Linked DNA regions of Homo sapiens. The protein of the gene in region 2 interacts with the protein of the main gene of each other region in a biochemical or structural test. Each region holds a gene or a part of one and is shown on either strand. Other genes may lie near its edges. The genes, in order: ARHGEF7, ERBIN, ACVR2A and KCNA4.

Region 1 (7,026 bases), on a different chromosome or scaffold from region 2:
TTAGCCAAAACACTGTCTGTCTTTTCCCCGGGAGCCCTTGATGGTTCTGGTGTCCCCGAGACCTCTGGCAGTAGCCAGCTTGGCTGGGGTGGTGCGGTGGGAGGCTCCTGTGAGACCAGAACCGGAAATTGGCTTGTTTCTCAGTTTTGCTGTTAGGATTTTCATGTTTATTTTAGGACATCGTTTACATAATGAGGATATAAAAGTATCTTTTCCTTTTAAGGGAAAACCTCTAGACTAGGAAAATTTGTTCCTAGGATTTGTGCCATGGGTATCATTTGAACCAAGCTCTGCTGACTAGAGACCCCTATCTTCTAGGATGGGGCGTGGTGATGGGGCGGGGGTCACCTGGGTCTCCTGGATGGGATGTGGTGACTGAGAAGTCATCCTGGTCTGGACCTGGCATCGGCTGCCAGCGCTGGTGCTGCCTCCCCTCCTTTCTGTGGGCTGTACACTGTCAGATGTGTGGACTGATGGCACATGCAATTTGAGGGACAGCAGACCCAGGGCCTGACAGAGACCTCAGAGATCGCCAGTGAAGGGGTGTTGCGGTCAGGTGACTGTCAGCCTTAACAAACGTGTGGGTGAAGAGCTGGACCCCCCACAGAAGCCTGCCCGTGTCCTCTGCCACAGCCATGGGAACTCTGAGGACAAAGATGACACACATGAGGACCCACTGTAGGGAAAGATAGGCGAGGCACTGTGAAGGGGATGGTTGAAGAGGAATACAGAAAGTTCTAAAACTTGTTTCTGACTCTTTAATTTTGGGATATGCACTGTTTCTATGTCCATACACAGGGACACCTTCCTTCCTTACGTGTTGTGAGGATTGAATGTAACAATGCTTTTGAAGTTCTAAAGCGTAAATCAACATTCGCTGTCTGCACACAGGGACCCCTTTCTTCCTCACGTATTGTGAGGATTAAACTTAAAGCTTTTGAAGTTCTGAAGCCTAAATCAGCGTTTGCTCTCTTCTCTTGCTGCTTCTCGTGCTCCTCACCCCAAGAGCCATTGCCTACTCCCAGGCTGAGTGCTGGCAGCACATAGGTGGGGCCTGCTCGCTGGACGAACTCGCATCTGGGGATGACTACCATCAGTGTGCTCTAGCTCTTTACCGGAGCAGCTCGGTCCTTGTTCTACCACCTTGAGACTCTGAGATTATTGGAATCCATTCTGGCTCTGAGTGTGCATGTTTCCATTGGATATGTCTGCATGGCACTGATGTGCTGGAGGACCTCGCCATCAGTAGGATCTCATGGAGACCCACATGTCCTGTGCTGTGTATAGTTATTGTTGCTCATATGAGAGCAGGAACGGGACCCCTTAGGGATGGGAGTCCCCTTTGGCATTTCCAGATAAGCAGCGCAGATTTGGGATAAAAGCTGGAGCCTTCCAGATGTTAAAAGCAACACTTATGTTTCATAAATTCTGGCTGTTGCTCATGGAGATGAGAGAGCCACCATTGTCTCTCATTGCTAACCACGAGTGTCTCTCTTGCCACTTGCTGCCCAGTGAGGAGTTGGGGGAGTTCATGGAGACCAAAGGTGCCAGCAGCCCTGGGATTCTCGTGCTGACCACGGGCCTGAGCAAACCCTTCATGCGCCTGGATAAATACCCTACGCTGCTCAAAGAGCTCGAGAGACACATGGAGGTACTGCGCTTTCATTCTCTTACTTGGAGTCCTTACCAAGGGTTAGTGGCATGGTCAGACTTACTGTGAAAGAAAGTATTATTCATGATTTATTTTAGAAGCCAGAACCAACAGAGTTTACAAAGAGTTTTGTTAAATATTATGTTTTTCTCCTTATTCCAGCTCTATTAGAAAACATTTACCCCTTATCTCTCTTTTACCCACTGCTGCTGATTGAAAAGTTTCCAAAAGCTGAAACATGAGAACTGATTTTCAGATAGTGTTGAGATGTCTTACCTGGATCATCCAGCTACAAACAATGTGTGCATAGGTTATAGGGTAATACTGTACTAATCATTTGATGAATGATTGTGCTCTTTTAATTTTGAATAACAGGTTGCAGCCTAGCAGAAATTTGGGTTGAAGTTACTCTCTTGGCTTGAGTTGGCAAACCTTTTCTATAAGGGGGCAGACTGTAGGGTCTTCTTCACGGCTACACAGCTCTGCCATTTTAGATACTGTATGTGAGCCGTGGCAGTGTTCCAATAAGACTTTATTGATGAAGCAAGTGTTGGCTTCCCCACCCCTGCTGCTTGTGACTGTTCTCTTCCAACTTATATTTCCCCAAAGTCTAATGGCTTCGTGATTTGCTGAAAGACTGACACTTTAATGCTGAGGGAAAAAGGGAATGTTAAGGGTTGAAAAGTGTTAGAAAAGTTTCAAGCTGGTCTGTAGAAAGTACCTTTTTAAGAAAAGCTTTTCCTTATGAAAGCTAATTGTATGTTTCTTTTACTCAAAGGATTATCATACAGATAGACAAGATATTCAAAAATCCATGGCTGCCTTCAAAAACCTTTCAGTAAGTGATTAAGCATATTGTTTTCCCCCCCAGACATTATTGTGACAAATGAATGTAAAAGAATTATCAACTGAAAAAGTCAAATGATTAAAAAATGACTTGTGCTGACATGAAAGAAAAACAGAGTCGGCATTCTGTGGCTGGTAAACTCCTTTTAGTGGACTATGATAGAATAATTATTTAAATTTTTTAAAGTCACTGTGTAATTGATGTTAGATCTACTTTAAAATTGTTTAAAACATTTTTTTACCCTTCATTCATGTTGTCTTTAATGATTTATTGCAAAACAGAACAATGGTGGTTCCATTTTCTCTGCTGTTGTGTTGTCTTACCAACTGCGTTTTGGAAATATATGGCCTTATTTTATAGCACAAGTTATACTTTCTGTTTCTTCTTTTCAGTCTTCCATATTGGCAAACACGAACAAAACCAGAATGAAAATACAGTTCTTGTCCTGTCCACATTTCTTTTTTGTACAAGTGGCAAAATGTGCTCTATCTTTCTAAAATAATACTTAGTATTCCAGAGCAGTTGTGTGTGTTGCTTCTCTTAACTTGGTTTCATACTTCTAAGCAAATACTTTCAATTCCCTATAATTAAGCAAATCGCTCAATAAATTATCTGTCTGAAGAAGTAAGATATAAAGCAATAATTGTCTTAAGGATGATACAAAGCAATGTGGCCGGAACTTAACATTCTGAAAGTTTATGTCTGTTAACAGTGTTGTTCTGTGTCTGTCAGGCCCAATGTCAAGAAGTCCGGAAGAGGAAAGAGCTTGAGCTGCAGATCCTGACGGAAGCCATCCGGAACTGGGAGGGCGATGACATTAAAACTCTGGGCAACGTCACTTACATGTCCCAGGTCCTGATTCAGTGTGCCGGAAGTGAGGTACTGCTGCCCACATGCACGCACCAGGGTTTCTGTCCCACTCTTAGGAGCTCATAGCAGAAGATTTTAAAGGCATCTCAAGCGATGAAAAATGTCTAATAGAAGCTCTATCTTATAATTTGTGAGCTACTTTTTATTCTTGACACAGGAGAGAGGCTTATGGCATGTTAGAGAGGCTTAGAGCTGAGTGTGGACTTGTTGATCAGTTTGATCCAGCTGAAGTCAGTGTGGCCCGAAGCCCACGTGAACTGAAGGATAGATAGTGTGCAGAAAGACTTGCAGGAGTCCTGTGCACACATCCGCATGGAGCTGTATGCGCTTATCTGGCCAGCAACTTTGTACCAAGGCTCACTCTCACAGGGACCTGCTGCTCTCAATGCTTTCGGGTCATTATACTTTCCTGTGAAAGTATGCTAGCTGACATATGCTTACAGGAGTCACAGTTTTCTTACAGGTTTGGTTTAAGTGAGAGATCAACCCAGATTTTTGGGACATACCCACCCACACAGTGAAAATCGAGCAGTTTGTTTCATGATTCACATTGACATACATTCAATGGGTCACTGAACAGGCACCTCTTTCTGAATTTTATTCTACCTTTGCAAAAATAACATGATCAAAACATGCGAAATGACTCATTTTTGAACACAAGACTCCAAGGAGAATAAGAAAACTAAAACTTCAAACTTATATAGTGTGTTTTCCTTTCCACCTGTAAAATATCACCCCTTCTACATAGTCTTGTAGTTTGGGTACCATAAGAAACCATGATTATAAAAACTTCACATCTTTTCAGAAGAAGTTTCTTTTTGAGTCATGCTCTTTTAAACTTTAATCTGTGGAAACATTTCCCAAAGTGTGTTCTTTATAATATTAGATCTATACAGCACTGGTGGGTGTTACTCCAAAATGCTTCAGAGTGGTTCTGATCACGACTGAACGTAATTAGTGGAAAAGATTCTTTATGATAGAGCTCCTCAGAGACTTGGCTGTGAATGTTCCCAATGTATGTTGTGATTCTTCAAGAGGGGAATATAGCAAGTCGTTCTCAGTGACTTCTTTAAAGTACGGAAGACTCTTTTCTCAAGGTGCTTTGCATAAGCCTAATGTTCTGAGGAATATACTTGGGGAAACTAATTCCTAGGACTGATTTCACTTTTTTGGGCCGTAGTTTAAATGTCAACATGTGAAAAGGACTGTGGCATTTTTTTGTCTCTTTTTGGATTCTTAGGAACTTTTTTCTTTCACTTATGGTCTCTTTGGCTTTTATCTTACTGAAGCAAATGATTTTTAATACATAAGTAATACTTTTAAGTCTGATGTAAACCAGGTGATGTTTATGGGGTGGATGAAAACAACACTGAGTCGACATTTGGGAGGTTTGGGAAGTGCCAGGAATTACTAGTAGACCAAAATTGATTTTAACATTTTATCCTTTCTTTAGCTTAAAGACTCCACCTGTTCCCCCTGACCCCATTAAAATTTATAGGTTCTCTCCTTTTTCTCTGAACCAGAAAAAGAAAATTTTAGCTTACCTGAAAATAGTTAATCACAGAGCTGAACTCTTTAACCAAATATAGTTTCAAGATGTTACACAGGCTAATTGTGAGTCCAGGATCTTTTAATCAGTCCGTTTACTTTCTTACCTTTTGTTTTTTGAAGAATTTGGAAGTCCTTCTCTTTACCTATATGTTAAAGCTCTCTCATAATCATATGTTAAGACTTAATACAGAATTTATCATAATTGTTTCCATTTAATTTACCTGATAAAACTTGATAGAAATACCTAAACGAGAAATATCATGTAATGTTTCATAGGGCCTAGTATAAATAAGTGAAGTATTTGTGCTCACATTTGTTAAGTAGATGTTTTTTAAGAAATGTTTTGGATTTCTTTTTTTGTATTAGGAAAAGAATGAAAGATATCTTCTACTCTTCCCAAATGTTTTGCTAATGTTGTCTGCCAGTCCTAGGATGAGTGGCTTTATCTATCAGGTAAAACACAATTTAAATTTATATTTTATTGTGGATCTGAGGATAATTTCAAACTGGCTTTGAATTTTGTGTTAAATATTACGTGTATCTATCTGTGTATGTGCTGTGTGTGTAGTGCTGTATATTCAGATATGGACGTACAGCTCCTGTTTGTGTTTCGTTGTGACTGCAAGCATATCCTATGTTAATTTCAAAAAAGGAAAGAAGTGTAAACTGTAGAGCAACCTCATAAGGACACAGACTACTGTGGCACAAGTCAGTCTCTGTCATTGCCTTCTGTCGTTTCATGCAAAATACCTTGCTCCTCCTTGCTATGGTTTTATTCTGTGAAATTGGTTCAAGTAGGGCTTGTGGGTTAGTGGGGTAGTGTAGACTAAGATCTTGTGTCAGTGGCACGGCACCGCCCAAATGCATCAGCAAACAGAAAGTGATGTAAGGGTGTAAGTAGCAGTGTGTGATCGTTGAACCTTTTTAATTTTTGTTTCCCTGCTTCTCTTTGAGAAAATGTGACAGCAGATTTGGGAAGGAGGTGCAAGGGTGAGCAGGGCCTTTTCTGTTGCGACAGTGGTTTATAGTGGTGGTATATGAAGGAGCTGGTATTTTCGCTGTCTGTCTAGTAGATGCACTTGGCAGGTTTCATTCTTCTTTTTCTGGGAAGTTACAGAGGCTCATATCCTTCCCATCAACTTTCTGAGGACTGGCCAGTCACCACGTAACCACTGCAGCAGAAGCCGCCACTTCGTGTTCTCTGGGTTGCATTTCATTGTAGCACGTGTTGTTTTGTGTTGGCGCAGCAAGGACGTTCAAGATCCCTAAGCAGACACTATGCCCTCACAGAGGCTCTGCCGACACCCAGAGAGGACTTGTGGCCATACGCTTACACCAACACACGTGCTTTAGAATTGGTGAATCACATATGTAGGAACAGACTCAGGAAAGTGAGGCTGTAGTTTGTTAGGCCACTGCTGAAGAGAGGTGATCTGTGGCTAGGATAGTGCCCACTACAGTTTCCCCCAAACTAGCAGCTACTTCTGTGTTAAATGACCTTGATAAACCTAAATCTCTGTCCTTTCTGGTCAGCACTATCTGGCTTCCGATTTTATATCCCCAGAATCTCATTCCAGTGGCTGGAGGCAGGGGCCTTCTCTAACCTAAGGAGAGAAGAGGTTGTCACTTGTGGCAGGCTTGAGTCTCTGCCTGTGTGGCTGGTGCTTACACTGGATTTGCCCTTGATGTGTTGACAGACTGCTGGAGCTCATCTCAACAACAGGATTTTATTTTTCCATTCTTAGCACAGTGGTGACCCATGGTCTCTGTATCATTGGTATCCGTTTCTACCATTAGAACACTGGCTTTGGGGGATGCCAAAAAGTGTTCGGTCCAGCCACAGTCATAGTGTTCTATACACCGATGTTCAGAGGGGCTAGGTTAAACACAGTTGTGCGGTTTCATTTTCTGTAGGACTTACAGCTGTTAAAGTACTTATATGCATTACGAATCTTGGAAAGGAGTTCACAGTGTGTAGCATTTTTTAAATACGCTTGGCCACAGAAGTGTCCAGCAGTCTCCTCTTCCACCGGCCATGCTTTAGGATGAGATTTCTCAGCCTGGGCACTGCTGACGTTCTGGACTGGATCGTTCATGGCCAGGGGCT
Region 2 (7,026 bases):
TTACTAAGGTCAGGAAAATAAAGATGACTCCTAGGGTCCCTGGCTTGGGAATGGCTTTTAAAAGAGCAGACAGGACCCTCTGTTGATACCAGGTATCCACGACAAATCAAAAAGCATCTACTATATACAGTCCCTGCTATTTTGCAGTCAGCATCAAGACAATAAACTAAATCTTCTGAAGTCCCCAGGGATTAATAGGGCACCCAAAGGATCCATTTGATGCTGCCAAGATCCTTATCTTTTCCTAGAAGACTGAGAGATTTATTCTAGTCTCAAAGGATATGCCTCTTAAATCACTTCCAAAATCTATAAGGAAGAGGAAAGTCAAACCAACTTATTCTAGGTTGTGTGATAACCTTGGCAACAAGATTCATTTTTAGATCACTAGTTTCTTGCACTGGTCCTACTACAAACATACCCTCCTCTCCCCACCCCCCCTCCATCAGACCTCCCTCCATGCTCCCACAAAGAGTCTAGAGTGACCTAAGGTGTGAAATTCCAAGAACACCATTATTAGGTGCTTCAAGACTTCAGGATCATGCAAACAATATAACCTGAATATATGAAAACCACAGCTGGGTGCAGTGGCTCACACCTGTAATCCCAGTACTTTGGGAGGTTCGAGGTGGAAGGATCACTCAAGCCCAGGAGCTGGAGACCAATCCTGGCAACATAGTAAGACCTCTACCTCTATAAAAAATAGAAAAATTAGCTGGGCGTGGTGGCATATGCCTGTAGTCTCAGCTACTCAGGATGCTGAGGTGAAAGGATTGATTGAGGCCATGAGTTCAAAGCTGCAGTGAGCAGTGATCATGCCACTGCACTACAGCCTGGGCGACAGAGCGAGACCCTTCTCCAAAAAAGAATAAAAAAGAAAAACACAACTGCATCAAAATCACTGCACTCATACTGAAATTGAGCAATTATCTCCACAAATAACTTGTCCAATGTAAAGAGTAAAAGTACTGGATTTCTTCCATCCTCCTTTCACAGTCGCCTCAAGAATTACTAAGGAATGAAATATTTCACATAAATGTACTTTATCACGGAATTAAAACTTGCCTTTTTACAGTTTGGAATTTTATCTCTTTAGAAATACTTCAGAAATTAATTGGACTGCAGACACTTCTGGCTCAAAAATGTTTGAACAAATGTTTACCTTAACTTCCTCACACACATAACATATGGAAACAAAACTATTTCTCACTGTTAGAGATAAGTTACAAGTATGGAAAGGGGAAAAAAAACAACTTAGAGTGAACCTGGTGGTGCTGGATTAGAATTGCATTATAGAAATATGCAGATGCTCCTCGATTTACAATGGGTTTACATCTGGATAAACCCATCATTTAAGCCAAAAATATCACAGGTTGAAAATGCACTTAGTACCCCAATAAAACCCCTGGTAAAGTCAAAGAAGTATAAATCAGGGACCATTGTATATATTTATAGATATATAAATAAAAATAGATGTAAATATGTGTAAGTACATAAAAATATTTCCTAGCTTTGTATATGAAGAGGGCCTGAGAGTAACAATACCCTAAAAACAACAATGTACACAAGCCCCAGATCTTGGCTTCTAAGTATCATTTTCCACTAAAAACAACCAGGAAAAGTAGAAGATATGTTAGAACATCTAATTGTGCTAAAAAACAAGGAGTACTCAAAAAAGGAAGAGGTATCAAAAACAAAAAAGAAAATAAGCCAGGGGGTTCTCACTGGCCAATCAAGAACAATTTGAGCACCAAAATAAATAGTAATGCATTATGTCCTTGCGAAGATAAACCTAGGTACATGTAAATAAGTGAATTTAAAATATGACAAACAAAACAAAATATTTACATAGTTTCAAAGCACCTACCGCAAAATATTAGTTAATTACAAACAGGGAATGAATACCTTAAAAAGGGCAAGTCTGGCAGCCACAACTTTAATCACATAAAGTGAATACCATAATAGGACACACTGAAATTGCCTGCCACCTGATAAGACGTAATAAGAAGAATGCAGCATCACTTTTACAATAACCCTGCCAAAGATCTAATCATAAAAATCTAATCAAAGATCTAATCATGAAAAATATCACACAAATGAAAATTGAGGGGTATTCTACAGAATAACTAGGCCTGTCATCTTCAGATCTTCAAAAGTGTCAAGGCCTTGAAAAAAAAGAGAAAGAAATTATTCCAGATTGAAGGAGAATAAAGAGATGACAACAAAATGTAACACATGATTCCAAACTGGAATAGTTTGCTGTAAAACACATTATTGGGATAATTGAGGTTCAGATGTTAGTAATATATTCATGTTTACTTTCTGATTTTGATGGTAATGATGTCATTATATGCAGGAGAATATCCTTGTTTGTAGGAAATAAACATTAAAATATTTAGGGGTGACGGGCTGGGCGCGGTGGCTCACGCCTGTAGTCCCAGCACTTTGGGAGGCCAAGGCAGGCAAATCATGACATCAGGAGATCAAGACCACCCTGGCTAACACGGTGAAACCCCATCTCTACTAAAAATACAAAAAATTAGCCAGGCGTGGTGGCGGGCGTCTATAGTCTCAGCTACTTGGGAGGCTGAGGCAGGAGAACTGGCGTGAATCCAGGAGGTGGAGCTTGCAGTGAGCCAAGATCACGCCACTGCACTCCAGCCTGGGCGACAGAGCTCTCAAATAAAAAAAAATATATATTTAGGGATGACGACAGGGCATCATGTTAGCAACTTAGTCAAATGGTTCAGGAAAAAAAATGTTCAAACTTTTCCATATGTCAGTCATTGTTTCAAAAATTAAAATTTAATTTAAAAATATCTATAGCAGTGCTGAAAACCTGGGAGGGGTATACCTACAGATAAGAACAGAACGGAATTTATAAAGAATACAAAGTAGGCTGGGGTCGGGGAAATAACAAAATGCAATACACTTGAGGAACCAGACACCCAAAACAAGAAGAAAGTGGGATCTCCAAAAAAGATGAGTTTTCTTAGCAAGAAGGATTAAGAGAAGCATATCCTGAGCGGTCAGCCAGAGAGCAAAACCATAGTAAAACACTGTGTAGCTAAAGCCTCTAGTACAGCTCTATGTATGTAGGAGATGTGACACTTGGACAGTGTGATTATGAAAAAAGGAGACTGCCTCCTGAGGAACAGTAAGCACCTGTACCAAAAGGTCAAGCTACCCACATACCTTCAAAGAGAAACTCGTTAAATATTTCTCCCTTTCCTCTTCTAAGCAATCACCAAAGCCAGAAGAAGGATTCATTGGGCTGGGAACATATATTTAAATGACCAATACAGTAGAGACTAGGTCATCATATAAAACTTTGACTACCATGAAAATCTAGTATTTGAAGAAAAAACAAAAAGCATGACATACACCAAAAGCACAGTAAGATCAAATTTTCTGTAGTGTTAGTAGAATAAACAAAAGACAATGTTAAAAGAACATCTCAGAGATTAAAGGTTACATGCAGACCAAAAATAGGGCTAGAAAACCAAAATTGGGCCAGGTGCAGCGGCTCATGCCATAATCCCAGCACTTTGGGAGACCAAGGAGGGAGGACTGCTTGAGGCCAGGAGTTCAAGACCAGCCTGAACAACAGAGCAAGAACCCATCTCTACAAAAAAAAATAAAACATTAGCCGGGCATGGTGGTGCATGCCTATAGTCTCGGCTGAAGGTGAGGTGACAGGATAGCTTGAGCCCAGGAGTCCGAGGCTGCAGTGAGCCGTGAGTATGCCACTGCACTCCAGCCTGGGCAACACAGTGAGATCCTGTCTCAAAAAAATAAAAACAAAAATAACTCCTATGAAAAACTAGAATTCTTAGAAACTCTGTTCCAAAAACAAGTAACAAAATAACTGAAAACAAATGAAAATCAAGTAAGTGGGCTTAAAGATCAAGCTTCAACACTCTCCCAGAATCCAATACGAACAGACAAGAAAAAAAATTTAATTAATGAAAGTTCCATAAATCCCAACTTCCACCTAAGTTCTTGAAGTGCAGTCCATAGGCCCTGGAAGTCCACAGTCTCTGGAAGTCCCTGAGACACTTTCAAGGAACCTTCCAGGTCAAAACTGTGTTTATAATATTGAAATGTCATTTTTCCCTTTTCCATTATATTTACATTTTACACTGATGTTGCAAAAGCAATGGTTGCAACAGCTAACACCTTTACAAGAACAAAGGCAATGCCTTCAAGCTGCAATAGTACCACTACATATTCCCAGGTTTATGTCTTTTTTTTTTTTTTTTTTTGAGACGGAGTCTTGCTCTGTCGCCAGGCTGGAATGCAGTGGCGCGATCTCGGCTCACTGCAACCTCCACCTCCCGAGTTCAGGCAATTCTCCTGCCTCAGCCTCCTGAGTAGCTGGGATTACAGGCGTTTGTGACCACACCGAGCTAATTTTTTGTATTTTAGTAGAGACAGGGTTTCACTGTGTTGTCCATGGTCTTGATCTCCTGACCTTGTGACCAGCACTTTGCGCGGTGGCTCACGCCTGTAATCCCAGCACTTTGGGAGGCCGAGGCGGGCAGATCACCTGAGGTCAGGAGTTCAAGACCAGCCTGACCAACGTGGAGAAACCCTGTCTCTACAAAAAATACAAAATTAGCTGGACATGGTGGCGCATGCCTGTAATCCCAGCTACTCAGGAGGCTGAGGCAAGAGAATCGCTTAAACCCGGGAGGCAGAGGCTGCGGTGAGCCGAGACTGCACCACTGCACTCCAGTCTGGGCAACAAGAGCAAACTCCATCTCAAAAAAAAAAAAAAAAAGAAAGAAAAGAAAGAAAATCTTCCTCCCTTTTCCAACCAAATACCTGTATAAGGCTGGATTTTCTTCATATACTTTAGCCAAAAGAACATACTGTAACAGATGGAGTGAAGAAGCAGATATGAGAATCGAGCTGTTTTCTATTAAGCCAAACATAAGAGACTTGCAAAAATATAAAACATTGCCACTATTTTTGCTATTTATTTTAGAAAACAATTATATTTTTATTAAAACAATGTTACACTAACATGCAATAGCTTATTTTCAAATAAATTAATTTTTTTTAATTTCTGTTTTGAGTCAAACCAAAAAGTCTGAGAACAGCTGCCTTAGGACTATTACTATTTCTTGTAATTATACCATATTATAACAGAGTGAATCCTCCTACAGGGAAATGAAATGTACAAGGCACTTAGCCTCAAAGTAAGTTGTCCCAGATTATTTTCTAAGTTATTCAGTCATCTTTCCATTTTTCTATTGCTTCACTGTAACACCACAGGTCATAACTTCACAATGCTGTAAACGTACCTTTCTCACGCCTTCTGGGATACCAAAGAACCAAAAACAGCTCATTATGTACATAAGTAAATGGGCTCTGAATAATAATGGCCCTAAAAGTGAAGTCCCCAGACTCTGTCATACCTGTTGTGATTAAGGAGATGTCATTTTTTATTTTCTAGTTTTTCTACTACATTCAATATGCTTTTAAAGCTATAATAAATAACCTCCAGATAAGTAGAGTCTTATTAAGTGAATTTTTAGATATTCTCCTTTTCTATCGTCTTCCACAAAGTGAATTTTTAGATATTCTCCTTTTCTATCGTCTTCCACACTATCACTTAAAGCCTGGCAAGACCTTCATTCAATGGTGTCTGGAACAAAATTTGAAGTGACAAAAATAGAGTGATAGAGTACTATTGTGCTTATTTCATGAAATCAAAGAAAGATAATTTCAAAATTTTAGGGATTCTGTGTCAGAGAAGACATCTAACTTGAAAGGTAGGACAGAAGAGGAAGGTACAGAGAAGAAGGAACAGAGAAATATATCTGTATGTTTTAAGAGGCCAAAAGTATAATAAAACAAGAAGGTAGAGAGGGTTACAAAGTCTTAATACATAAGAATAAATAACAACCTGGTATTATCTTAACAGTCAATTTTAAGAACACTAAAGAGAAAAAGGAAAACTGAGAAAACAAAGTATAAAACAAACAATGGCCGGGAGCGGTGGCTCATGCCTGTAATCCCAGCACTTTGAGAGGCCGAGGTGGGCAGATCACGAGGTCAGGAGATAAAGACCATCCTGGCTAACACGGTGAAACCGCGTCTCTACTAAAAATACAAAAAAATTAGCCGGGCACAGTGGCGGGCGCCTCTAGTCCCAGCTACTCGGGAGGCTGAGGCAGGAGAATGGCGTGAACCTGGGGGAGGCGCAGCTTGCAGTGGGCCAAAATCTTGCCACTGCACTCCAGCCTGGGCGACAGAGCAAGACTCCATCTCAAAATAAACAAAGCAATATACTGATGAATATAAAGTTAAAATACCAGCATGTACACTTAGTTGAAATGCAAAGGGGATATTCAGAATTAAATGGGCTAATAAAATAAGATCAGATAAACTTTTTCCACTGCATGTTTTGAACAGTTTTTTGAGGTGATAAACATAGACTAACAGTTTGGAAAAGAGGGAAATGGCAAAATATAATTAAGAACGACCAACTGAACACAGAGAAAATAAGGCTAGGTAAATGAAGCTAACTATAAATATAGGAAGCTAAGGGAATCAGAAGAGAAAGCTGAATAGCAGCTAAGTTTCTTTTTTACAATTAGGAAACCTAAGAAGAGACAGCTAAAAAGTGAATCTGAAAAATGGGAGTTAGCAGTAGGCCGGGCTCAGTGGCTCACACCTGTAATCCCAGCACTTCGGTAGGCCAAGGTGGGCAGATCACCTGAGGTCGGGAGTTCGAGACCAGCCTGGCCAACATGGCAAAACCTGTCTCTACTAAAAATACAAAAATTAGCTAGGCATGATGATGTGCGCTTGTAATCCCAGCTACTTGGGAGGCTGAAGCAGGAGAATCGCTGGAACCCGGGAGGTGGAGGTTGTGGTGAGTCGAGATTGTGCCACTGCACTCCAGCCTAGGCAACAGAGCAAGACTCCATCTCGAAAAAAAAAAAAAAAAAAAAGAGGAAAAGACAAAGACATCTTTAGAGGTTTATAATAGAGATGTATTCCCAGAAAAAGAAAACG
Region 3 (7,026 bases), on a different chromosome or scaffold from region 2:
AGAGGAAATGGAAATATGGTAATTATGTTTTCTTCAGTTCAGCTAGGCAGTACTGTGTATGTGTGAATGTATGTGTGGTTGGAGGGGGAGTTAGCATTACAGAGAATCTTTTGGGATTCTTTTGAACTTTGATTAACAAGTGATGGATGATAAATACTTTGTTTTCTAAAAGGCAGAATCTCTTATAAATGGTGTCTGTGGTCAAATTCAAATATAATACATTGAAACATGGAGACTAGAAACAAAATGAAACAAAATTCTCCCTCCATTCATTTTCTATTTTTTTTTCCTGTTTATGATCTAAGCCAACAGTTCTCAAGCTGGGGTGAGTCCCCCTCCCTACTTCCCCAGATCCCCATCCATGGGACATTTGGAGACATTTTTGGTTGTCACAACAGGGGACGGGGTGTGCTACTGGCATCTAGTTGGGTAGAGGGCAGGGATGCTTCTAATCGTCCTAAAATACATGGTACAGCCTTCCACAACAAAGAGTTAGCTGGCTCAATATGTCAGTAGTGTAGAGGTCAAAAAACCCTGTTCTAAGAAAACCAAATACCACATGTTCCTATAAGTAGGAGCAAAATGATGAGAAAACATGAAAACAAAGAACAGAACAGCAGACACTGGGGTCTACTCAAGGATGGAGGGTGGGAGGAGGTAGATGAGCAGAAAAGATAACTATTGGGTACTGGACTTAATACCTGGGTAATGAAGTAATCTGCACAGCAAACCCCATTATACGAGTTTACCCATGTAACAGACCTTCACATGTACCCCCAAACCTAAAATACAAATTAAAAAAAAAGGAAAAACTCAGTTCTAAACTCTTAAATTTTAAAAGCAGTAGTTTATTAGTAAAAGGGCTCTGCTCTCTTCCCCCTAAAGTTAGTAATCTAAATTTTACAAGTACATGGTATTGATGATCTCCAGGTAACGTTGTATTGAAAGATTTTTATCTTTTCATTATCTTTTAAATTAGAATATGATTAAATTAGAGAAACAGACTATAGATACGCACATTCTTTCATCCTTGATGAAATGCTTGAGAATTCACCAGTATAGTATAATATTTTATACTATAATAAAATATTCCAATGACTTATGGATAAACTCTCCTATCACCGATTTTGATAGAGTGCTCATGAAGACTGCATGTTCCTGGACATAATGAATGATTGGTTAAGGTATCAAGTTTAATTATATTTGCTTTAGATCCAGGATTTTCTTTGCCATGATATGATCTTTAAGGATATTTGCCTTTATTTTTACTGACATCATTGGGCTGCCTTATGGCGGTATTCGTGTGTGTGTGTAACATGTTGCCTGAAATATGTTCACTATTACATGTTCCCTGAATAGTTTCAAGGTAGAAATTCTGTTTTTTTAAAAAAGATATTTCTTTTGTCTAGCTAACTTTAATTTCAAGAAACTTTTAACCTAATCTCTTAATTACATAATTATCTTGAGAATCACTAGCTGGGTTTTGGTTACCGTTAGACTAATTCATGATACAGTAAGTAATATTTTATGATCTATTGCAGATCGTTTCCCTTTTTAAGGCTAAATCTTGACCATAATTAATAAAATGCTTACCTTGTTTTGAACTCTGGTTTTAAGGGAGTTAACCTAGCCAACCAAGATAAGAATTACAGTGAAACTCTTAGCAAATTAAGGAGCATTATACCATAGAGAGGAAAATTCTGAAGTCATTCCCACAAATGGTGTCCAAATGAGCCTCACAGTGTCTTTGTAACACACCTCTCCATACCCTTCTCTCTGATACTGACATTTTCGCCTTTTGGGTCCACCAGACTCACTGTTCTTAAGAGAAGCACAACTAAACCAAATGAGATTTTAGTAATCTCTAAATTGTTTCTTTAGATTCCAAGACTTTATTTTGTTGCATTTTGACTTTTTAAAGTGCTACTATGATTTTCTCATCTTTGATATTTCATGAGTCCAATGATTTAAATTTGTGTTTTCATGGTCTGTTAAGTTGCCAGTTGCCATGTTGTCTCAGATTATAGGTAAGGTTGGCAACATTTGATACTAGGGGTCACTGGTATGCCTTAGCTTTTTGCTCACTGCTCTGTAACTCATTGTTTTTTCCATTCCCTTTCATTATTGTTCCCTTTCCATTTTCCTCCCTTCTTTGTCTACTCCCTTTTCTTCCCCTGACCCTTCTGTACTTCCTTATACTGCTTGCTTGTGGAACCCAGTTGTGGCTTAGCATCATGGGTGACTCCAGAGGGCTTACCCGTAGTTTTAATGAAAACAGATTGAATTTAGAATGCTTGAGAATTGACCAGATAGTCTTTTCCACTGTTTTTTCATTTACTGGTTTCTGGACTACCTCGCACACCCTCTTGGGAATAGTGTTACTCTCTTAGAATCAAATGGCTTGAACTTTAGATTGCTCTTATTCTCTTTTTTAATATTCAGGTTTTCCTTAACTCTTTGCTGCTTCAGAAAAAGTTTCGCTCATCTTATTATTCATTTATCATCTCTGTTTAAGCCAAAATTTGACTAGAACCAAGAGTATATTTATTGCTGCTGATAGGACCACATTAGACTTCCTCTGTGGTAGATTTAATTCTGTTAGATTGTAAAATAGTCATGTCTAGACAGAACATTGATTTCAAATTGACTATTGAACATGAAAATTCCAGGAATAGTGTATAGAGGAAGGAGGAGGAGGAGGAGAAATCAAGAAGGTAAGAAAACTACTGTAGATAGCAAGTGACTTTCTGTCATTCTCCACCTAGATTTCTTGTTAGTCACTTTTGTATACCCAGTGCATCTAGAGGTCAGGCTTTGTTTTAATAAAGGGACTTAAAGGAAATATGTTTTTGTCTCTGAGATTGGATTTTTTGAACTGTTAGAGTGGTGGACCTAAGGGAAAGAATTGGAAACTTCATATGGATAGTGATCAAGAATGTGGTCGTAGAGGTTGGTAGACTTGAGCTGTGGTGTCAGTGCTGCCAGTATCTAGCTTATGTATCATTTTCTGTTACTTGATTATTGTAGCACTTTTCTAGCTAAGATTCACCAGTTCCCTATCACTACTTCCTTTTCTTTCTAGTCCATCTGCATAGCTGCTGGAGTGATCTTATTAAAAAATAAATCTGAATATGTTACCCTTGCTTAAAACCTTTCACTGACTGTGAGTCACCTTTAGCATAGAATCTAAAGTCTTAGAATGTCATAAAAGGTCCTTCATCGTTTGGTTCCTGCCTATTTTTTCTAACCTCTTGGTATTGGTTAAGAGTATAGACTCTGGATATAGACCTAATTGGTTTAAATCTTGGTTTCATAACTTAACCTTGGTCAAGTTACTTCACCTTTGTGTGCCTCAGTTTTCTCATCTACACAATGGGGGGATATTAATAGTGCCTACCTCAGAGAGTGGTTTGAATATTAAATGCTAGTTATTCTGCTGCAGCTTCTCCTCAGCCTGAGTACTATATTCCATCCATACAGACTTGACTTGCAGTTTCTTAAATGTGTAATCCTTTATTGTATATCAGTATGGTGCCTTTGTACATATTACTCTTCCTCTTCTACCTGGCTAACCCCTTTTTGGTTTTAAGACTGAGAAGTATCACCTCTTTAGAAACATTTTCTCTGTCACTCAACCCAGATTGAGTTAGTTGCTTTCTGTTCATCTAACACCTTGTAAATGACCTTGATTTCAGTAATAATTGCAAATGTTTACTTGCCTGTTTCCACTTTAGACTGTGCAAATGTTTACTTTCCTGTTTCTACTCTTTGAAGACATCTTTCCTTTATCCACACACCCATTCCTGGAACCTGGTACACAATAGGTGCTCAGCAAATGTTTATTAAATGAATGAAATGAAATTATTTCACTTCTCTGAGCCACGGTTGTCCTCTTAATGTATTGAAGTGGTGAACTTGGATTAGATGATCCCTGATTTTTTTTCCTACTCTGAAAGCTTTATGGTTCTATAATTTTAAGGTTAGAGTTCAGTGGTGACATTTTATTAAGAAAAGATGATTTTGCTCATTGTTTTGATATCTTTAAGTTATGTTCAAATTTAAATTTTTTTAAATAATTAAAATTAGAATTTGAATTATATAGATTTAGAGGGGATCTTAGGTATCCTCATGTTCCATGGCTTTCATACTTTTTTGACTGTAATACACAATAGGAATTACACATTGCATTATGACTTAGTTCCCATGTAGTAGTAGGGGTGTATGTATATATGTCTGTGTGCATCAGAAATGAAAGTTTCATGAACTGTGTACTCTTAACTATGTGCAGGACACTTATGTATTTTTATATTACATTTCATTTAAAAAACATTGATCGTGACCCATTAATTGATTCATTGACCAACTAATGGATTGTAAATCCCTAAAACCAGTGACCTAGTTCAACAATCCTTATTTCCTGTATTCAGTACTCTCTTAGTGGAAAAGGAAGCTTCATATGTAAATGTGTGCAATGAAAAATATATGCACTGAAAAATATGGTCATTAATTAATCTACAATAGAGACTGTGTGCCTAGGTATAGAATATAGGGAAAACTGGTCTCAAGGGAGAACATGGCTCTTCCCTGATTAAGGTCTTCTCTCTTTTGGACTAGTCGAATAAATTAAGCACACACGAAGGCGCTGAAACAACATTAGATTGTAATTTTGGGGAGTTGGGATTTTTTAATTTAGGAAAGACTTGCTGGACTTAGTACTGGAAAAAAAGTCTTAGACGGAGATTAGGAAGGATGTTAATATGAAGGAAAAGACACAAAATAGCATCAGGAACACAATAGCCATTTGAGAGTAAACTTGACCATGGATGAAGGCAAGGTGGGATGGAGAAATTTTGACTAAATCTGAGGAAGAGATTTGTGTGATGAAGAGAGTTCACAATTGCTTGAAGAAGTAGGACAATCTCAGGGGGTTAACCCTTAAATTCAAATGAAAAGTAATTAAAACTGAGGAGGTAAGAGTGGATGATACATATCCTGATGTATGTCCCAAATACCCCATATGTGGATATAGGACTGAAAAGCAACTCGAAGACTAAGGTAGAATGGTAGCACTACTAAATAAAATTGGTAAGGAAGTAATGAGCCAGAGGAAAATTGAAAGTGCCTTCATAACTAAAAAAGTTTACAGATAGATATAGTTTTAGATGATAAGCATGAATAGAAATAAAGACATGTATTTGGAAAAATAAGAGTACATAATAAAACATGATAACGTAATATTCTCTTAAAGAGGCAGACACTGTATGATGGATATGTCTTCATTGTGAAGTCTAGTTAAAGAATTCTAAACATTAGTGGCTCAATATGTTGTTTATGTTTAAATGATGGTCAAATTTCAGTAATTACTCATACTGGTCATCCAGATTATATTCTTTGAAATCTGTATGAGACCCTACAGTAAAATACACTGTTCTAAGGAAGTAGATTTAGATGCTTTTCTGAATTTGGTATATGGTATTCACGCTTGAAACCTAAACTTTTCAGTGACCATTCTTTTGGACTAGTTTTTTCTTTGGTTGGCTGTAGTCACACTGGGAATTACTTTATTCTCTAATATTGCTAAAGAAAATAAATGTAAAGCAAGAAGAGAGTTACTACATTAGAAGGACTGGCTACACATGTGGGGAGGGGTTGCCTTTCAAAAGATTTTAAAAATGAATCAAGTCTTTACATATTGTAATAAAAGTAAGCCTATTTATAAAGCTTAGAGGGAGGAGTTTTCGTAGTTATGATTATTAACTTTAAAATTTTTATTTTAAAGGAAAAGTTTATTGTTCTTCCCATCTTCATAACTATATGTGATATATCAAGCTTGCTCCAAGGCATTATTTCAAGAGGAAGGGGCATGGACAAGTTATGAGATCTTGGCACATTTCTAAAACTCTGAGATTAACTTTTAAAATTTGTAAACCAAGATGTATTAAATGAATTGATAACTCCACATAACATGGTAGCTGGTCCAGAGTAGATCTTACATATTAGTTTTTAATCTATCTTTAAGTCCCATTTAAAAGGATATGGTATGTAAAACATTAAAAAATATAGATTTGGTTCTTGGGGGATATTTACATTTGCAGGTTACTTATCAGTCAGTTAATGTGAAATAATACTCTGACTAAATGATACAGCCAAAGAACATATCATTATAGAGAGCCAGATAGCTGCCAATAAATATCTAGAATATTCAGATATCGTGGTTCCTTACAAAGAGTTCTTTAAGGTCTCACTGTTTTAGCATGCATTAAAAAGAAACAATGGACTAAATCGTCTCTATTTATTAGTGGGAATTTAAAATATCTTTTTTTCTTGGACAACTTCTCTTAAACTTTTTAAGTGTTTTAAAACTTTTTAGTAGAAGTAAAGTTTTGAAAGATTCTCAAGTCTGTTTTTTAGGTACCAGCTACTTTAAGCTTTGAAAACACAAAGCTATTCAATGACTGTACTTTGAGATCAATATTTTGAATGTGGTATAATATTTTGGACTAAAACTTAAGAGTCTGTCATTCAAATTCCTACTTTCCTACTGACTCTTCTTTGACCTTTGACAGCCATTAAGATTTCACTTTACTCACCCTAAATTAAAGAGGGTGAAATAGGTATTCATTCACTTAACAAATCAATATTGAACTACATGCTAGACACTATGGTAAGTGCTTGGGATACATTATTAAACATGAAGACAGATATGATTATGCCTTTCTGAAGCTTATAGTCATAAAGTAAGTAGTCAAATGAACAACATAATTACAGATTGTCATACGTGCTCGGACAGAAACTAACAGGGTGCCGAGAGGATTACTCTTTATTTGCCTTATCACATATCACATCTGTTTACTTTATCTGCCTATTTCTTTTTTTTTTGAGACTGAGTCTCGCTCTGTTGGCCAGGCTGGAGTGCAGTGGTGCAATCTTGGCTTACCACAACCCCAGCCTTCCAGTTCAAGTGATTCTCCTGCCTCAGCCTCCTGAGTAACTGGGACTACAGGCATGCGCCACCATGCCTGGCTA
Region 4 (7,551 bases), on a different chromosome or scaffold from region 2:
CAACCTCCCCCATCCCATGTTTGTAAGGATTAAATGAGATAATGGATGTTGATAGAATATCTCAGTGCCTTTTACCTAATGAATGGCAATAAACACTGGCAGTTATGAATAACATAACAGCAACCTATGTTTTTATTGTCTATCTACACAGCCCCAAGTGTTTGTGTCCTTAGGCCACAAACTAAAGTAGGGGAAGATGGGACGTGAGGACATACAAGACATCCTGAGACTCACCAATGGCCCTTGTTAAGTTGGCACTGCCTGACTCCCTACAGCATGTCCCCATTGTTTTTCTGTTCCCTTGAATCCTGAACACTCCCTACCACCCACAGACTAGGAACTAATGCCAATTTCCACATCTCTAATAACCATCTTCTCTCCTTGGCGGTCACTCCATGTTCACCTCAATGGTTCCTCCTCCACTCTGCTCAAGGGACTATCTCCTTATTTTTTTAAATGTCAGTTTCTGTGGACTTCATTCTTAGCCTATCATACTTACCCCCACTTCAATAAAATCCACATCCCTAACATCCCCCCTCCTCTCTCTTTCTCTCTCTCTGCCCACTTTTATTTACAATCTCACACTTCTGAATTGCATGTCCCTTGCAGCTCCGATCTGCTCCCTCTGTCACCTGTTATTCCTGGCCCTTCTTCTTCCTTAGTTTGCTCTCCCAAGATCCAGGTAATTCATCTCCTCAGCCAGGCCCTGTAAAAGCCCCCATCCAAATCTCCTGTCTCCTCTTGATTTTTCCATGTACTCTGTTCAACAGGACTTCCAAGAATGCAGGGAGTAACCCAGAGAACTGGAGAGAATGATGATAGTCAGAATTCAGGGCATCTACCAGCTTCTATTACTGGAAGCACTTGGAAAGCATAAGAGAAATGGCTTTCTGAAGCCATTAACAGGATTCAGCTCTTGACCACCTGCTGCTCCTTGCTGATCCTGTCAGCCTAAAAGCCTAAACACACTGAATTTTATGAAGTGACAAGCATGGAAGTGGCAAACAGAGGTCTTCCCAATCATACACCCCTTCCCAATCATATATATTTTCCTAGGGCAAGAAGGGCATTTGATTGCAACACAAACTCCAGAAAATACACCACAGAGGGCATCTCACATGCCATCTCCCTTCCTTTGCCTGACTCCTAACATCATCTCATACTCTGAAATGTTTACCCTCAAGGAGTTTCCAAATCCCTACTTACAAAACCATCCTGGGGTGACATTCGCAGTGGAGTGTCAGGCCAACATCCTTTCAAGACCGGTACAGACCAAATAGCCTGAGAGTTTGCTCAGTTTCTTCCCCAACTCCCCTAAAACAATTATAATTTCAATGAAGCCCCAATGTAACCCAAGTTCCTGTATAGTTGAATACTACACACACTGCCTTCCCACCCAACTGACTCCCAGAAGGTCATGAATTAGCGAGTCTTCTAATTCACCATCAGCTCTTCGGGAGTTCTAGAACTGCCCTCTTTCTGCTCTACACCAAATAATTTCACATTTATTTATTTATTTGGGATTGTTAGTTTTTGTTTATCTAACTCCCTCCTCCACCCTACAAGTAGCAAATTGCCTTCCTTTTAATCATCTACTAGTTACTTCACTATCCCTGATCTAGAAAGAAAGGGAGAGAGAAAGAAAAGAAGAGAAAAGAAAAATCATTCCTCCCAGCAAATCAGACTGGTTTAAAATCTCTCTTCTTTCTCAAGGTACTCTTGTTAGGAGAATCTATTCAAGCCAATTCCCAGGAGCCTTTATGAGAGAGATCTTTGCAGAGGAATTTGTCTTCTTCTTTAACACCATTAAACTAATAGGATTTTGCAGACTACCTATTCCCCAATCCCGGCGCCCCCAAACAACAGCCAAGCATCCCGCCCCTCCTCCTCTCACCCCTCCAACAACAAGGCTGTTCGTCTCTCAGTGCTAATTCCTGCAACTGTGTCACTGTCAGGGTGGTACCTGAACCTTAGAGAGAGAGAGAGAGAGAAAGAGAGAGAAACTGAGAGAGGGAATCAGAAAAGCCACCACCGTGAGAAATATACACTTCAACGCACGCCATTTATGCAGCCCCTATGTATGTTGCTCAAATGCTCGGAAAATGCACGCAAATCCAAACGTTGGAAGAGGCAGCAATTCAGACCCGTTCACCGGCTGTTCCCAAAAGAAGGGAACCGGTGCGGCTGGGAGGAGGCGAAACGATGCTAAATCTTAACCCCCCTCTCGTTGGGAAACGACATCTTTAATCGCGCCCTCGCCTCCAGACCTCGGTTCCCGCTCCAGCACGTTAAGCAGGGCGCACTCACCGCATCCCCGGGTTTGGGAAAATAACAACTGTTGGCCCCCCGGAGCGCCGCGCAGCATCCGCACCTCCCTTCTCCCACCTCCTGGTTTATTTTTAACCGCCTTCCATTCATGCCCTTCTGTCACATTCCCGATATTATTTATCCCTCAAATGTCCACTGTTTCTTAACAGCCAAAATAAGAAGGTAGAGGAAAGATACAAAAAAAAAAAAAAAAAAAAAAAGGTATCATACTTACCGTTCCCCGGCGGGGCGAAAAATAAAAATAAAGAAAATCCACCGGCTGGCTTGTTTTTCCCCCTCAAGCTGCAACAGCTGGAGGAGGGGAAGAATGATCCTGGGTGGGGGGCGGGGGGTGGTAAAAGGAATCACTCGGGTTTGGCAGGTGGAGGCTCCAAATATCCACGGAACAAGTTCTGTTGCCTGGCCCGAGGGGTGCACAGAGTCCTCGCGGCTGGAGCCTGGGGGTGGGGGTTGGGGCTGCCCCAGAGAAGACCCCAAGACTCCTGGTTCCTCTGGAGTTCAGCACAGGAGGGATTGCCTGGGAAAGGAAGTCAAGGTTCCCCCGAAAAGAAACAAAATCCTAGACAGCAGCGATCACTTGTTAAGCCCGAATTCCTCCTCCAACATCCATCCCTCTCTCGCTCTCGCTGGCTGCGGGAGCAGCACACGCCTCCCCTGGCCGCGAACGCGCTCTGGGCGGGGGCGGGGCCAGGGCCGAACCGAGGGTGTGGCGTTCGCGACGGTCGCCAGGGGCGCCTCCCGGCGCGGCGGGGCGGGTGCAGTCACGACGCCGCGACTCCCCGCACCCCGGCTGGGCCCCCCGACTCCCAGGATCTGGGATCGATTCCAGGAGTCTTTGGCTGTGGTCCCCACAGGCGAGGAGCAAATCCTGGAGAAGTGTCCCCGTTGGGGCCGGAATAGGGGTTTCGACGGCAGCGCGGGAGTCCCCAGAGGGCTTGGGAGCGGGGAGCTCCAATGGGAGGTGCAGTCCCGAAAATGGGGTCCTCTGGGACATCTCCTCTACCTAACTTGCTTTCTCTATATCTCCCCTCGAGCCCCGAGCCCCGTCTTCTTTTCCCCACCCCATCCCCTCCCAAAGCGGGTTTGTTGGGTTGGGAGCCGGGTGCATCTCCGGCGAGGCCACGGGCGGGGAGCCCTCCTGTGCCTGCCAGAGCGCCCAGATCCCTCAGTCTCCGTCTCCTTTGCACACAGGAGTTGGGAGGCTTCAGCGCCGGGGTTGGGCCTCAGGGGCGCGGAGGAGACCGACTTTCAACCTGTATTCAATCCCGGGCAGGGGAATGTTACAGAAATTGGAATCAGGCCCAGGCTAGGGGCTGCGCACAGGAGGCAGCAGTTCTAGGGGAGGAGGGTTGGAGAGATGAGTAAGTTGCAGGGTGGGCCAGGGGCTGAGGGCTTTGGAAGGCGGGGGAAGAGCCCGCAGCCAACCTGTTGCTGCAAAAACAAATACGGCTCTGGTATCGACTCCCTGAGGGCTCTTTGGATCCTTCAGGACAGAAATCAAGGGATATCGCAGCAAAAAGCAAGTTTTTTTGGTTTTCTTTCTTTCTTTCTTTTAATTAAAGCTTGTGCGCACAAGGGAGCTAACACCAAGAAAAAAAAAAGTGGGCTGTTCCTCGAAGTCAGGGTGTGGGTTTCTTTTACGGGCCTCTCCCGTAAGGGGAAATAAGGAGAACTATAGACAGGGCATGTAGAGGTGGAGTTTTTCTGGTGCATGCATGGTGGTTTAACATGCTTCTTCATAGGACGTATGTATCATTAGCATCTTAAATCTCCACCTCTGGGAAAGATTTTTTGCATTAAATTAAGGAAAAGGTCACTATGAGTTGAAAGTTAAACCTAGCCGCCGCGCATGCCAGGGCCTCGGGCAAGTCCCTGGTCCCCTAAAGCCGAAACTTCTGGTTAATAGCTTCTTGAGCTTTTCATGCTAATTGGCTGGAGTTACAGTTTGAGGAAGGGTCTCTCCTTGTTTCTTGTTTATTTCTTCGGACCACATCAAAACAGGAAAGTAGACAGTTTGCCTGTCTCAGGCTTGCCAGAATCAACCGGGCGAGAGGTTTGGCTCCCGGGAGGACTCTATCTTAGTGATCTCTCCCACTGCCCACCTCCATTTAAAAAAAAAAAAAAAAAAAAAAGGGTTTTGCTGTCCATCTCCACCCCACTCCCACACACGCGAGCGCGTGCGCACACACACAAACAAACACACACACACACACACACACACACACAAATAACCAGAAGCCCACGTGGCGACGGGGTCTCCCTAGACACCTCTCCCAGCTCGCCCGATGGACCAAGCAGGCAGTGGCAGCGCTATGCCCCGGACTGCTGGAGCAAATCCGACCTTGGGCTGGTTGGTTGGCGCCAGGACTGTCACTGTCGTCCTCGGGGCGGCAGCTTTGTTCAAGGGCTCTATTGGGCCTCCTCCTTTTGTGATGCTCAATTAATTATTAAGGGAAATATTCCCGAGCTGAATTATAGATATGCCTTGCACTCACTCACCTAACCGTTGCGGGCTCGGAAAAGGACACCTGGAGGGCTGCTTTTTGTTGCTGTTTGATTTTTCTTTTATCTTTTCAAATAACCGGACACACACACACAAAATCGAATTGTAATCAGTGTGAAAGAAAAAGAAGAAATGAAACCTGGAGTGCACCCTGGTTTTTCCAACGTCTTTCAGCTAGTGCAGCTTGAAATTTTGGCATGAATAAGTTTAACTGTAACCCCCTGGCCTCAACCCTGGTGGAGCTGAGAGAAAGGTATCTTCATGCTGGCTCTAGAGACGTTCTTTGCCTCAATTTATTCCCTACTGCAGTTCATTCGAAGAGCAGCAAGACCGGGTTTCTCTAAAAGTGAGAACGATCATGCTCACTCGCCTCAAACCCTCTCTGTACCTCCACAATGTGATATCACTGTGCAGTTTCATAAGTACCAGAAGCAAATAACTGGTAATATTTATTGTTGGCTCATTAGAAGGATATTTCTTGGGATAGTAAAAAGCAGGACTGGGACCTGTTTCCCAAAAGCAGTTTATGAGATCAATCCGGTACAGCTATGCAGTGCTTTCAGGGAGATGAAAAGTGAGATGGAATGATGTACTAGAGATGATAGTTGTATTGAAGCTTGGATATTTTAATTGAGTCGTGTTTAAACTTTATGAATTATGCTTCCCTTTTGCTGTTTGTTCCTATCCCAGATAATTTTAAAGTTTTCAATGCCTGAGGACTTTAATATTTGCATTTCTTAGGTGTTGGTAATCTGAATTACTAAAATACGACAGGAATGCTGCTGAGGAAAAACTCTACTCTCAGGAGGACTTGCGCAAGGCAGGTAAGATTAACTGAGTGTCTGCCTCCTACCTGGCTCTGTGCTAAGTTCTTTGAATGTATATTATGTAATTTTATTTGCATAACTAAATGCTTTTTTATGTGATAAGTACTATTATAACCACTATTTTATAGAAAAGGAAATGAAGGCTTACAATGATTAGCTAACTTGCCCAAAGGTTATATAGCTAATTATGTAGCAGAACAAGGCCTTACATATCTGACTCTGCAGTGTAGACTGACCCCGTGCTAGTGATGTGGTCTATGCCCATTTGTTCATACAAGCTAGTGGCTGTCACAGATGCATATACAGATTATGAAGCAAGGGGATTTGTGTTATGATGGAGGTATGAGAATGTTGCTCCTTGGTGCAAAGAGTAAAGCAGCATCTAGTGTGGAGGCGGTAAGCAAGAATTCCCAAGGAGAGAGAGCACTGTCTGAAAAATCATAAGAGTTGGAGTGGCCGCCATGGAGAATGCACAGGCACATAGTGCTGGGATGGAACAGAAGCAACTAACTGGAGCTAGAGATAGGTTAGGACCAACTGGGAAGAGCATGCCCCCTCCCAGCCTTCTCCCACCACATGCACACACACACCCCTACCTCTTTGCCCATTTAAATAATTAATTCATAAAGCAAACAAGAAACATTCTATTTCTCTCCTTGAAATTATCCTAGGAATTTCTAGGAACCCATAAACAGTAGCAAAAAGATTCTTTGATTGAGACCAATAAAAATCTACCTTGTCTTAGTCCCCAAACCTTGTTTACTTTTTATTTTCTTTTGAAATGGGTTCTCATTCTGTCACCCAGGCTGGAGTGCACTGGCATGATCACACCTCACAGCAACCTCAAACTAACTGCTGGGCTCAAGTGATCCTCCTGCCTCAGGCTCCAGAGTAGCTGGGACTACAGGTATGTGTCACCATGCCCAGTTATTTTTATTTATTTATTTATTTTTAGTTTTTGTAGAGACAGGGTCTCATTATGCTGACCAGGTTGGTCTCAAACTGGCCTCAAGTTCTCCTCCTGCCTCAGCCTCCCAAAGTGCCCACCACGATTACAGGTATGAGCCACTGTGCCCAGCCCCTCTTTTCTATAAAGAGGAAAAAATTATTTTCTTGCCTTTCTTAGTCATCAACTAGTCAAAATTCTTTAAGCTCTCCACCACCAAATACACCTATTACCACAAAGAATGTATCCCTGGCTTTGAATTCTCTCAGTGGTGGTACAAATGTTCCAGATCACACCGTGAAGCCTTTGCTTATATAGAAAGTGGCAGAGGCCAACAGATCGTCTCTGTACAAAGCACGATAGGAAGCCCTGTGGGATACAAGCTAGGCCCATTATAAATGTTTTTGTTCTCTTTGAGGACTGTGGTCCACAGTGAATTGCAATGTTCTGTTTACTCCTCTATCTCCCCAAACATGCCTGTGATACTTCACTGAGAACAGACATTATATCCTGAGCAACTAGCGTTGTACTTGACCCAGAGTAGAATGTGAATGAATAATGGAAGAGGCTTCCCTTTGCCAAGAAAGTTCAGTGAATGTGTTGTGAGAGAACTAGAAGATTGCTTTTTCACCTGCTCACCCCAGCCTCTCAACTATCTATCTCACTTTTAAAGTTCTGAAGTGATGGGCGTGGGGGTGGTGAGAAGGCCTTGGAGATTTGGTTCCATGCTCCCATATCCAAATTTATGGATGGGGATATTTTGATCAGCCCATCATTCCTTATAAAATGTGAGTCACTCAGCTAGTTTTTTCTTGGGTTTTTCAATGACTGTTCACCACCACTTCCTAATTTATCTTACGCATATAGGCACTGGTCAAAACTTAAGATATCAGAAGAGCATATTTGTTTCTTACTATAATTAGTGTTTTATTCCATTTCAGCTGCTA

What was found.
Region 1: the proteins of ERBIN (region 2) and ARHGEF7 interact in a test that uses a peptide from one of them, tested with the Homo sapiens proteins (2 studies listed by BioGRID and IntAct).
Region 3: the proteins of ERBIN (region 2) and ACVR2A interact in a test that uses a peptide from one of them, tested with the Homo sapiens proteins (2 studies listed by BioGRID and IntAct).
Region 4: the proteins of ERBIN (region 2) and KCNA4 interact in a test that uses a peptide from one of them, tested with the Homo sapiens proteins (3 studies listed by BioGRID and IntAct, with this or other methods).

What each region holds. Positions count from the first base shown.
Region 1 is NC_000013.11:111,272,302-111,279,327, forward strand, and holds part of ARHGEF7 (rho guanine nucleotide exchange factor 7), read left to right. Parts: intron 1-1,512; coding exon 1,513-1,651; intron 1,652-2,429; coding exon 2,430-2,489; intron 2,490-3,230; coding exon 3,231-3,377; intron 3,378-5,285; coding exon 5,286-5,372; intron 5,373-7,026. UniProt on the Homo sapiens protein: Acts as a RAC1 guanine nucleotide exchange factor (GEF) and can induce membrane ruffling. Functions in cell migration, attachment and cell spreading. Promotes targeting of RAC1 to focal adhesions. May function as a positive regulator of apoptosis.
Region 2 is NC_000005.10:65,929,574-65,936,599, reverse strand, and holds part of ERBIN (erbin), read right to left. Parts: intron 1-7,026. UniProt on the Homo sapiens protein: Acts as an adapter for the receptor ERBB2, in epithelia. By binding the unphosphorylated 'Tyr-1248' of receptor ERBB2, it may contribute to stabilize this unphosphorylated state.
Region 3 is NC_000002.12:147,848,021-147,855,046, forward strand, and holds part of ACVR2A (activin receptor type-2A isoform 1 precursor), read left to right. Parts: intron 1-7,026. UniProt on the Homo sapiens protein: On ligand binding, forms a receptor complex consisting of two type II and two type I transmembrane serine/threonine kinases.
Region 4 is NC_000011.10:30,014,030-30,021,580, forward strand, and holds the start of KCNA4 (potassium voltage-gated channel subfamily A member 4), read right to left. Parts: upstream 3,002-7,551; 5' UTR 2,543-3,001; intron 1-2,542. UniProt on the Homo sapiens protein: Voltage-gated potassium channel that mediates transmembrane potassium transport in excitable membranes. Forms tetrameric potassium-selective channels through which potassium ions pass in accordance with their electrochemical gradient.